Linked DNA regions of Homo sapiens. The protein of the gene in region 2 purifies or fractionates together with the protein of the main gene of each other region. This does not show direct contact. Each region holds a gene or a part of one and is shown on either strand. Other genes may lie near its edges.

Region 1 (3,346 bases), on a different chromosome or scaffold from region 2:
AGCTGGCATTACAGGCGTGCACCACCACACTCGGCTAATTTCTGTATTTTTTGGAGAGATGGGGTTTCACCATGTTGGCCAGGTTGGACTCGAACTCCTGACCTCAAGTGATCCACCTGCCTCAGCCTCCCAAAGTCTCACATTTCATCTTAAAAAGTCCCCTGAATTCTGCACATCTTACTCCATCACATTTCTTTAGTATGAAAATGTTTCCTTCCACAAATCTTTGCAGAAACGGATGCTCTAGAAAGCGATGCCAAGTTTATCCTGTGGCTTCCCTGTCCCCCATCACCAGCCCACTTTTGTGCAGCTTCTGGGGGCACCCATACCCTAGTTTCAGAAGCAGGAATTGAGAGGTACAATCTATACCTCTCTTAGCACCAAATCAAACTCCAGGCACCCCGGCATGCAGGCAGGCCCATCAGAGCCTGGCCCATCACGGTCCTAAGGTTCAGGCTGCAGAAGCAGATGCCTGCGGGGAGGGCAGAGCAGTGAGGGGTCCAGCAGTCTCCAGCAGACCCAGCCACTCTGCTCACACCCTCTGCCCTGGGTCCTCCCCTGCCCCAGGAAGCAGCATCCCTACCATTCCAGACTAGACTGTTATAAATCCTCTTTAATAGTCTTAGAATCTTGAGTGTGTTTTACAGAATGGTGCACACAAAGCCCCCTCCCCTCTCCCCCTACAAGGCACAGCCTCACCCACCCCACTCCCCAGGGGCCAGAGGACCGCTTGCCAAGAAAGGCCAGCCCACCTTCTCCCAGGAGAAGCCATCCTCCTCCTCCCCGCCCCTGGCCAGCTCCGGACCCTGGAGAATACAGGACCAGCTCTGTGCCATGCCCCCAAGGACTCACCTGTCCCTAAGCAGCTCAGGGCCAAGCCAGATCCCCTTACCCAGGCAGACCCCCTCCAGCCCAGCTCCCCTAGGCCGTGTCCCTAGGGCATGGCCTAGGCTAATCTGAGCTGTCTAGATGGACCTGCATCAGGCCTGGGGAAGGGGTGCCACCCCTTAATATCAGGTAAAACCCACCCTCTCCCCTCTCCCACTGCCTTCAATATAATTGTGAAAAATAAAGATATAAATGTCATAGTGGGAAATAAGTTGACCCACCCAGTAGGCAGTCTCCTGACAGCCCAGAGTGCCTTATCTAACGCCCTTCCCTCCCCAATTTTTTTTTTTTTTTTTTTTTTTTTTGAGACGGAGTCTCTTTCTGTCCCCCAGGCTGGAGTGCAGTAGCACGATCTCAGCTCACTGCAACCTCCGCTCCCGGGTTCACACCATTCTCCTGCCTCAGCCTCCCAAGTAGCTGGGACTACAGGTGCCCGCCACCGCGCCCGGCTAAATTTTTTTTGTATTTTTAGTAGAGACGGGGTTTCACCATGTTAGCCAGGATGGTCTCGATCTCCTGACCTCGTGATCCACCCGCCTCGGCCTCCCAAAGTGCTGGGATTACAGGCGTGAGCCACCGCGCCCGGCCCCCTCCTCCCCAATTTTTCATACAGTTGCCCCTATACAATATACACACCCTTGAGGGCAGGTAGAAGTCCAGCCCACCTGCGCCAGGGACGCTGTGGGGAGCATTTTTCTCTGAGTTGCTAAGAGAACCCTGATGGGCGGTGAGCAGAGGAACCACAGAACAGCCAGGGCTCAAGGCTGGCAGCGGATAGGCCAGGAGAGATCGCTAGGCCCCAGAAAGCCCCCTACTTTCAGTCAGGATGGGCAAGAGGGTCTTCGCAGTGAAGTGGGAGGCAGGCCTGGAGGAGGGAGCCAGGGAGACCCCTGGGAGCCCTGAGGTTGGGGGCCAGGCAGGGAGATGGGGATAGCAGCTGCCTCAGTACTTGGGGACCTTGCTGTAGTCTTCGGAATGGACGTGCCGGCACAAGCAGATGGACAGGACCATCCCCAGGAGCTGTGGGGAGAGGCGGAGAGTCAGAGGGAGGCTGGGTGTCCCGGCCTCAGACGCCCCAGCCTCACCATCCAGGTTTACATGGGGATTAAGTGGATCCTCAACTTGAGCCTCACAACCACCCTGTGATGCAGGCAGCAGAGGGAGGCCCAGAGCGGGGCAGTGCCTTGTCTGAGGTCACACAGCCAGACAGTGCTCAGACCAGAGGGCCTCTGGAAGCTGATGGGGTGCTGGCCCCCTTGGCCACCACCTCCCCAAGGAGATCAGCAGAACAGAGACAACCCAGGAGGACCTGGGATGGAGAAGGGATGGGGGAGGGGGCTCAGACCTCGATGATGGCCACACCCACGCCCACGCCGAGGATGATGCCCAGGTTCTCCTGCAGCCACGCCTGCACCTTCTCCATGCAGCCCTGCAAGGGCAGAATGCGGTCACATCACCCCGCTCTGCACCATCCCACCCCGCCATGCAGAACCACCGAGAGCCCCCCAGTCCCAGCCCGGAAGCCCCTACAGAGGGCTCTGCCTGTTCCTTGAATAAATACATTAACAAAGAAGTAGATGAAGGTACAAATGACAGATGAATTAAGGGAAGGAACTAAATGCAGGAAGGAATTGCTGAGCAGTAGCCCAGATGGCCCCCAACGCCCTCGGAGCCCCGCCCCCGATCCGCAGCCCCCCGCACACCTCCTGGTACACAGGCCAGTCCTCAGGGTGGTTGCCACTCTGGGTCCTGTTGCCGGGGGCCTCGCAGAAGCCCTTCCTCACAGAAAGGCTGTTGTCCTCTTCCCCCTTGACTTCGCAGGAACAGGGGTAGGTGACCTCAGGGCGATTCATGAGCTCAGCGTTGTCTGTCCAGTTGTAGAAGCTGACCCAGCCGCAGCACTTCACCTGGGCAAGGCAGGGGACAGACTGCTTGTGCTCACGGCTCACCCTAGGCAGGCTGCCCTCCTGGCAGAGGGAGGACCTCCCCAGGACAGAGACTGAGATATGCCACTTCCAGGCCCCTGGTCCCAGCCGAACCATCATAAACTACAAGTACAGCAGAAAAATCAAAACCAGGACCAGCAAAAATACAAAGCAGAGTAGGAAGGAAGTTCAAGTTGAAGGAGCGCAGGTGTGCAGGGCACAAGGAGAATGGACGGCAGACAGTTCACAGTGCAGGGTTTAAAGTCAGGCTACTGGGTTACAATCCCAGCCCTGCCGCCTACCAGCTGAGCAACCTCCATCAAGGAACTAGCCTCAGTTTCCTCATCTGTAAATGGGGATAATTAAAATCCCCAACTCACAGGGCTATCACAAGGACTAAATGGGATGAGGCAGGCAAAGTACCAAGCATAGGTGTGGGGAGCACAATAAGCTTAGGAAAGGCCGTTCAACTTTAGTGCAGGAGTTGAGATTTGCCTCTGAGCTTCCTGGTGAAAAGGAAAAAAAGTGAAAAG
Region 2 (4,432 bases):
CTCCACATCCATCTGGCATCCAGGCTTCTTCTATCTTTCTCTTCTACCATCCTTACTACTGGCTTCCATCTTCAAGGTCACCTCATGGTCACAAGATGGCCACCATGGCTCCATCCCTCAGATCCACTTAATAGGCAATGGGAAGGAGGATAACACAGAGCAAAAAGGCCTGCATCCCAGCTGAGTCAGCCACCTTGAATGAGCTTTACCAGGAGCCCCACCAAACAATCTCTAAAGATATCTCTGTAGAGCACTAGCTGCCCCTATATGCAAAGGCCACTGAGAAATGTCTCACAGTGCTGCTGCCACCGCTGCCACCACCACCCCACCATCCTTCCCCCCAACCCAGATTATATTAGTTTTGTTAGGAAAACAAGGGCTAAAGGGTTACTTCGCAGGTGGCTGTCAATCTCTGCTACAACGGGATCAGTATGTTAAAACTGTAAGAGGTGGCAAAGTGCTAGTATTCTATCCAGTCCATTCGCCCTGTTCATATGAGAAAACTGAAGCTCAAAGCCACTAAAAGCCACACAGCTAACAAATGGTAACCTGGAGGCCTGACTCAATCTTCTCATTCTGAAACTGGTGCCAGACTTTAGAACCAAAGTTGCAGTGAACCGTGTCTGTATATGCATGTGGGTTTAAAAGAAATTTTCTATATTGACTTTTCTCTAAAAATATAAACAAATATGCTCTAGTTTGTGGGGAAACTAAACTATATAGTCAGGCCAATCTTATATGGGAATATTTAAGGTATTTATAAACTATCAAGATTGTTCACATGTGACAGAACGCCTGTCACATTCTGTTTCAGCAAGATTCCAAGAACATCGTAAGTGGGGACATCTTTATACGTGTCGGTGCCCTTCCCCTAAATCGAAGCAGAGCTCCATAAAAGGTATTCATGATTCACTTCAGACCTCGAAGAATACAGCCTCCCGTCTGTGCCAACCCATGAAAGCCAGTTCCCAAAGGCCAAATGTCTCACAGGGACCTTTTAATGCATTTTATGTCTTATTTATTGTGCTTATCTGACAACTTCACAAGGCTAATAGACATCTCTAAAAATGTGTTGACATCTTAGTGCATTCTGAATGTCCTTCAGTGTATTATCAAATTTGGACAGTGCAAATATTCCCCTGGGGGTAATAAAAAATAGACACAGCAATACAAATGTGCATTTCAGCCCATATGTTGTATATATTATATACAAATATTATACCCCCAGTACAGCATTATAAAGTGCAGTGCTATAAATAGAATACCAATTTCAGCTACCACCCACCCATTTGGTTAGTTGCAAAACATCCAGGCAACAAGCCAACTGATGCAGCCAGGAGTCACCCAGTCGCTTTCCCAAACCTCCAACCTCCCTTTCTCCCAGGGCTGCCACCCAGCAATGCCCTTCTTCCACTGAAGCCGATTCCAGCCAAATTCAGTCGCTCCCCAAGACCAACTACAGCCTTCTCTGCCGGAGGTGCCCTAATATTTTTAATTACACTGCTGCCTAATTAATCATGCATGTAAACAATTACCAACTAATCTTGCTCTTTTCCCACACTTACTGAGCGCCTATAGAAATGCCAGAAGTACACAAATGCAGCAAATTAATCCTTATTCAGAGAGCTTAAATACAAATAAAAACAGGCTGTCAAGGTTCCGGTGGGCTAACAAGAGCAGTGCGCAATAACGCTACGTCTTTTCCTAAACTGCACCATTCTGCCATTACTAAAAAATCTGAAATCATTGCCTTTTCACACCAGCAAGTCTGGGTTAGAGGACAAAAACTCTGTAGCAGTCTGAAAAAAAAATAATTTTTCGCTCAAGCTTTCAAAGTTGAACAAATCTGATCATGAAAGTCAATTACAAGGCTGCTTTTTTTTTTTTTTTAACTTTTATCACATCGTTTTAAGATAAAGGGGGGAAATGCCCTTGCGAGGAGAAAAGAAATAAAAAAGAATGGGCATTACAGCAGCAGGAGACCGGGCAAGCACTGCTCTGCTCGCAGACGTGTCCCCTGATGTCCCCAGCGGAGACCCGAGACAGGAGCAAGCCTCCCCGCCGCGCCAGCTCCCGCGGAGGCCCAGCGGGCGCCCCTGTCCTCCTCCGGGTCGGAATCCGGGAAGGGCTGGCGCCGAGCTGGCCGCTTATCCTCAGGGGCCAGGGCACGTCCCGAAGGCCCTGCGGAGGGGCGCGCGGACACCGGGACCGCAGTCCTCGCCCCCGGGGGTCGAACAGGAGCCGCGGGGCCTCGAGGGCCGCCTCGCCGGCTCCCGTCCAGCCTCCCGCCCGGCGCGGGGCGCGCAGGACGGCGGAGCGCGGGCGGAAGGCAGGGGGGCGGGACCGCCGCCGCCGCCACTCGCGCTGTTGCAAAGTTTCTTCGGTGGCACAGTTCCTGCGCGCTTCCTGTGGGGGCGGCTGCTGCGCCCTCGCCGCCCCGTCGCCCGCCGGTTCGGGGCGGCAGAGGCTGGGAGACGCGAGTCTGGGGCCGGGGCGGCAGCGGGGACCCAAGACCGAAAGGGGCCGAGCGGGCACGCCTCGGGTCCCGGGCCCGGGTCCCACCTGGGCGCCGCGAGAGGGCGCTGCTGACGGCGCGGCGCGGCGGGGACCGGACGGCGGGACGCGCGCGCCGGCGGGGCAGGGCTGGGCCGCCCTGCGCCTCCCTCCCCGCGCCGACCGGGGCACGGGCGACTGTGCCCGCGAACCCCACGCCTCGCCCTTGCGCGCCTGGCCGCCCGCTACTTACCCAGGGAGCAGGTGAGGAGCGCGAGCAGCGCCGGCGGCGCGAGCAGCCACCAGCAGGCGGGCGGCCGCATCCTGGCGGCGGAGGCTGAGCGCCCTACCTGGGCGCGGGGAAGGGAGACGCGCGGGGAGCGGAGCTGCGCCGCTGCCGCCGCCGCCCTGCCGCCGCGGCTGACCCTTCTCTGCCGGCTCCCCTCCTCCCTCCGTCTCCGCCGCGCCATCGCCGGCCGCGCCCTCTGGCGGCCGGGAGCGGGAGCACCCCTGTGCGCGCTTCCAGCGTCTGCCGGGCTGGCGGCTGCGGCTGGTGTCCGGCCCGACGGGCTGCTGCGGTAGAGGTGGCCGCGGCTCTGCCCTCACGGCGCCCTCCTTCGAGGCGTCTGACCTCTGCCCCCTCCAGCCACCAGCCTCCACCCCTCCTCTTCCTTTCTCCTCTGCGTCCCTCCTGACCTAGGCCGCGTCCCCTGCCTTCATGCCCTCCCACCTTACCGCGTCACCCCCATCAGTAGTTCTACCTGTGAAGTGGAAGCGAGCAGTAATCACTTTTCCTCCCTGCTAATGTATTATCTGCTGTGGAAAAAAAAATGTAATCAATAGTTCAACTCTTAATATTGTTGGCACCAATGCTCTACTTTGATGAAGGTGTTTTTAATCAGCTCAACTAATTTACTTAATATCCCCTTTAAATGGAATTTGGCCAATAGCCTAGGTCTGGGATTTGGCTTTTAAACAAGTTTGTGTAAATGTAATTTTCTATAAATGTAATTTTAAGTGTTCACCATAATGGAAGAGAGTGGGTGTAATTTTATTCAAAATATAAAAATTAATTAAACTGGAATACAGAGAAGTGGAGCAATGTGGGAGTGCCTCCTGTTCCCGCAGGACTGCGAAGGGCTTTCCTCCCCAGCCCGGTAGAGTGGTGGCCCTGATAGGGGACTGGTCCTGTTGTGTTGTGTGGTGCACTGAAGGGGAAAGCATTACAAGTAAGAACTAGAGGCTCCCTTCAGTGGTTCTGAACTCCTTCGTGCCTCCCTCAAGCCTTGGCTCACTTCTGTTTCCAAGGAAGTGCACAGGACCAAGTGCTTTTCCCAGCCCTAGTTTAGCCCATGACCTCTTGAAGGCAGTTTCTATGTTTTCCTTCATATTTACTCATTTGTTGGATACCTACTATGTGACTGCAACTCTGCTAAGCACCCTAGGAATGCCAGTATCTTTCACATGGACATACAACATTCACCTACTTGCTAAACATTTAAGGAGGAGGAGGCCCTGGGAGTACAAGTAGGATGGCCCTGGGAATACAAGTAGGATGTCCTGGAGACAGAGAAGCAGGTGCTGAATAAACATTTGTAGGCTTGAGCCCTCTTAACTTGAATGCGTTTAGGGGACTTAGGCTCTAATGCATTAGGACAGTATTGTCTGCAATTGTGCAATACCTGCTGGGATTGTTTTGAAAAGGAGGCCTGGAGACAAAGAATTTTCTCTCTGTGTGGTTTATATTGACTTCTTAAAACTGGGAACTAAATATTTCACGTGTGATCCATTTAGTGTGAGTGCAAATAGTTCCCTTTTGTTCCATTCGCCCAAGGTTTATGGTCTCTTGTCAATACCATTTTGATGGGAGGAAAAAGAAATGTAGGGATCCTTCCATTTCATTTCTTAGTGAAGCATTTCAAATCTATGGTTGACTGAA
Region 3 (2,366 bases), on a different chromosome or scaffold from region 2:
AGTAGAGACGGGGTTTCACCATGTTGGTCTCCAATTCCTGACCTCAGGTGATCCACCTGCCTCGGCCTCCCAAAGTGCTGGGATTACAGGTGTTAGCCACTACACCTGGCCTTTTTTTTTGAGACAGCCTTACTCTGTCTCCCAGGCTGGAGTGCTGTGGCACAGTCTCGGCTCACTGCCGCCTCCGCCTCCCGGGTTCAAGCAATTCTCCTGCCTCAGCCTCCTGAGTAGCTAGAACTATAGGTGCGTGCCACCATGTACCATGCCCAGCTAATTTTTGTATTTTTAGTAGAGATGGGGTTTCACCATGTTGGCCAGGCTGGTCTTGAATTCCTGACCTTGCGATCTGCCCGCCTTGGCCTTCCAAAGTGCTGGGATTATAGGCGTGGGCCACCGTGCCCGGCGGCCATCTTCCTTCTACTTAAGAGTTTCTGTTCCCAGGCCTAGTAAGCATCTCATAGACATCAAACAAGTCACAGGAGTCTTCAGCTTGTCATTGGAATTGTAGGTGTGGATATGGCCTCCTGGAAGGAGTACAGAATCAGTACTACCCAGAGGCCAAAGGTACAGTCATGTCCTTAGTCCCAAAAGGCTCAGACACATCCCAGGCCCTTTCCACACACTTAAACAGCTGATTTATTTTTTCTCTTTATTGTTACATACAATGTATAAACACATAAAACAGAAAACAGTAGGGATCCTCTAGGATCTCTAGGGAGACAGTAAAGTAGAAAGAGGTCTCAGAAACATTTTTTTAAAGTACAAGACATTCAGTGCTCGGCCCAAAGGCGTAGAAGGTTTAGAGCCAGCAGATAGCTGTACTAAAGGCTCCGTCTCTCTCCCCAGAGCCAGGACAACCCCAGGGAGCTCTCCATTAGCAGCCAGTCCACGCAGGCAGGATGCTGCGGAGAAAGCTCTATGCTGAGAACATTCCCCTTGATGGAAAGAAGGGCAACACAAAAGGGTAACTAAGAGCTCCTTCCTCTCGTGAGGGCGACAACTGAGGAACAGAAAAGGAGTGTCCCATGTCACTCTGACCCCCTCCCCAGCTGCCCTGGGCCCAGATGCCCCCATACTTGGCATTTACCAGAACCTGTCCCAGCTCAGACCCTGCCTAGACCCACCAGGTACCCAAAGTTCTCTGGGGAGGGCCAGGGAAGAGGCTGGGTGTCAAACCAAACAGATTTTTATTTGCAGTCGTCACTGGGGCCGTTTCTTGCTGCTTATTTGTCTGCTAGCCTGCTCTTCCAGCTGCATGGCCAGGCGCAAGGCCTTGATGACATCTGGAAGAAAGGGTAGCGGTACATATGGGGTTAGTGAGAGTCTGAGGAGCCCCCATTCACTCAGGGCAGAGCTGCCATCACCTGCAGCTGCCCAAGAGCCAGCAGAGGCCACCATCGTCCACCTGCACCCCATCCAGCCACACCCACCTCGCAGGGCTGAGAAATGCTTGGCTTGCTGGGCCAGAGCAGATTCCGCTTTGTTCACAAAGGTCTCCAGGTCATAGTCTGGCTGCTCGGTCATCTCAGAGAGCTCAAGCCAGTCTGGTCCTTGCTACAACACAGGGAGGACCTTGTCAGTTCAATAACCATTTAGCAAATCATTCCTGGGGTCCTACCAACTGCAATGCAGACACCTGAGTAAGATGCTTTACCTCTGGTCCCTGACCCATACCCTGGCTGTTCACCCTCTCCCCAAGGAAATCCTTAGCTTGAATTCACCCTCTTCCTACCCCAAGCTTGTTTTTTTCGTTTTCTTTGTTTCTTTTTTGAGACAGTTTCACTCTTGTTGCCCAGGCTGGAGTGCAATGGCGTGATCTCGGCTCACCATAGCCTCCACCCCCCGAGTTTAAGGGATTCTCCTGCTTCAGCCTCCCAAGTAGCTGGGATTACAGGCAAGTGCTACCACGCCCAGCTAATTTTGTATTTTTAGTAGAGACGGGGTTTCTCCATGTTGGCCAGGCTGATCTCGAACTCTCGACCTCAGGTGATCCGCAGGCCTCGGCCTCTCAAAGTGCTGGGATTACAGGCTTGAGCCACCACTTCCGGCCTCCTATCCCAAGCTTATCCCCATCTCTTATGTCAAATGAATAACATCATTGGTCCTGATGCCCAAGCTAGAAATTTGAGTGATTTTATTTTTATTGTTTTTTGAGATGGAGTCTCACTCTGTCACCCAGGCTGGAGTGAAGTGGTGTGCGATCCTGGCTCACTGCAACCTCCGCCTCCCAGGTTTAAGTGATTCTCCTGTCTCAGCCTCCCGAGTAGCTGGGACTACAGGCACACACCACCATAGCCAGCTAATTTATTTATTTATTTATTTTTTCTTTAAGACGGAGTCTTGCTCTGTCGCCAGGTTGGAGTGCA

The links.
Region 1: the proteins of B3GLCT (region 2) and CD82 fractionate together in Homo sapiens (co-fractionation; one large-scale study listed by BioGRID). This does not show direct contact.
Region 3: the proteins of B3GLCT (region 2) and KIF2C fractionate together in Homo sapiens (co-fractionation; one large-scale study listed by BioGRID). This does not show direct contact.

What each region holds. Positions count from the first base shown.
Region 1 is NC_000011.10:44,617,611-44,620,956, reverse strand, and holds the end of CD82 (CD82 antigen), read right to left. Parts: intron 2,796-3,346; coding exon 2,592-2,795; intron 2,318-2,591; coding exon 2,234-2,317; intron 1,909-2,233; coding exon 1,831-1,908; 3' UTR 599-1,830; downstream 1-598. UniProt on the Homo sapiens protein: Structural component of specialized membrane microdomains known as tetraspanin-enriched microdomains (TERMs), which act as platforms for receptor clustering and signaling.
Region 2 is NC_000013.11:31,198,469-31,202,900, reverse strand, and holds the start of B3GLCT (beta-1,3-glucosyltransferase precursor), read right to left. Parts: upstream 2,927-4,432; 5' UTR 2,817-2,926; coding exon 2,747-2,816; intron 1-2,746. UniProt on the Homo sapiens protein: O-glucosyltransferase that transfers glucose toward fucose with a beta-1,3 linkage. Specifically glucosylates O-linked fucosylglycan on TSP type-1 domains of proteins, thereby contributing to elongation of O-fucosylglycan.
Region 3 is NC_000001.11:44,766,014-44,768,379, reverse strand, and holds the end of KIF2C (kinesin-like protein KIF2C), read right to left. Parts: intron 1,555-2,366; coding exon 1,431-1,554; intron 1,284-1,430; coding exon 1,201-1,283; 3' UTR 613-1,200; downstream 1-612. UniProt on the Homo sapiens protein: In complex with KIF18B, constitutes the major microtubule plus-end depolymerizing activity in mitotic cells. Regulates the turnover of microtubules at the kinetochore and functions in chromosome segregation during mitosis.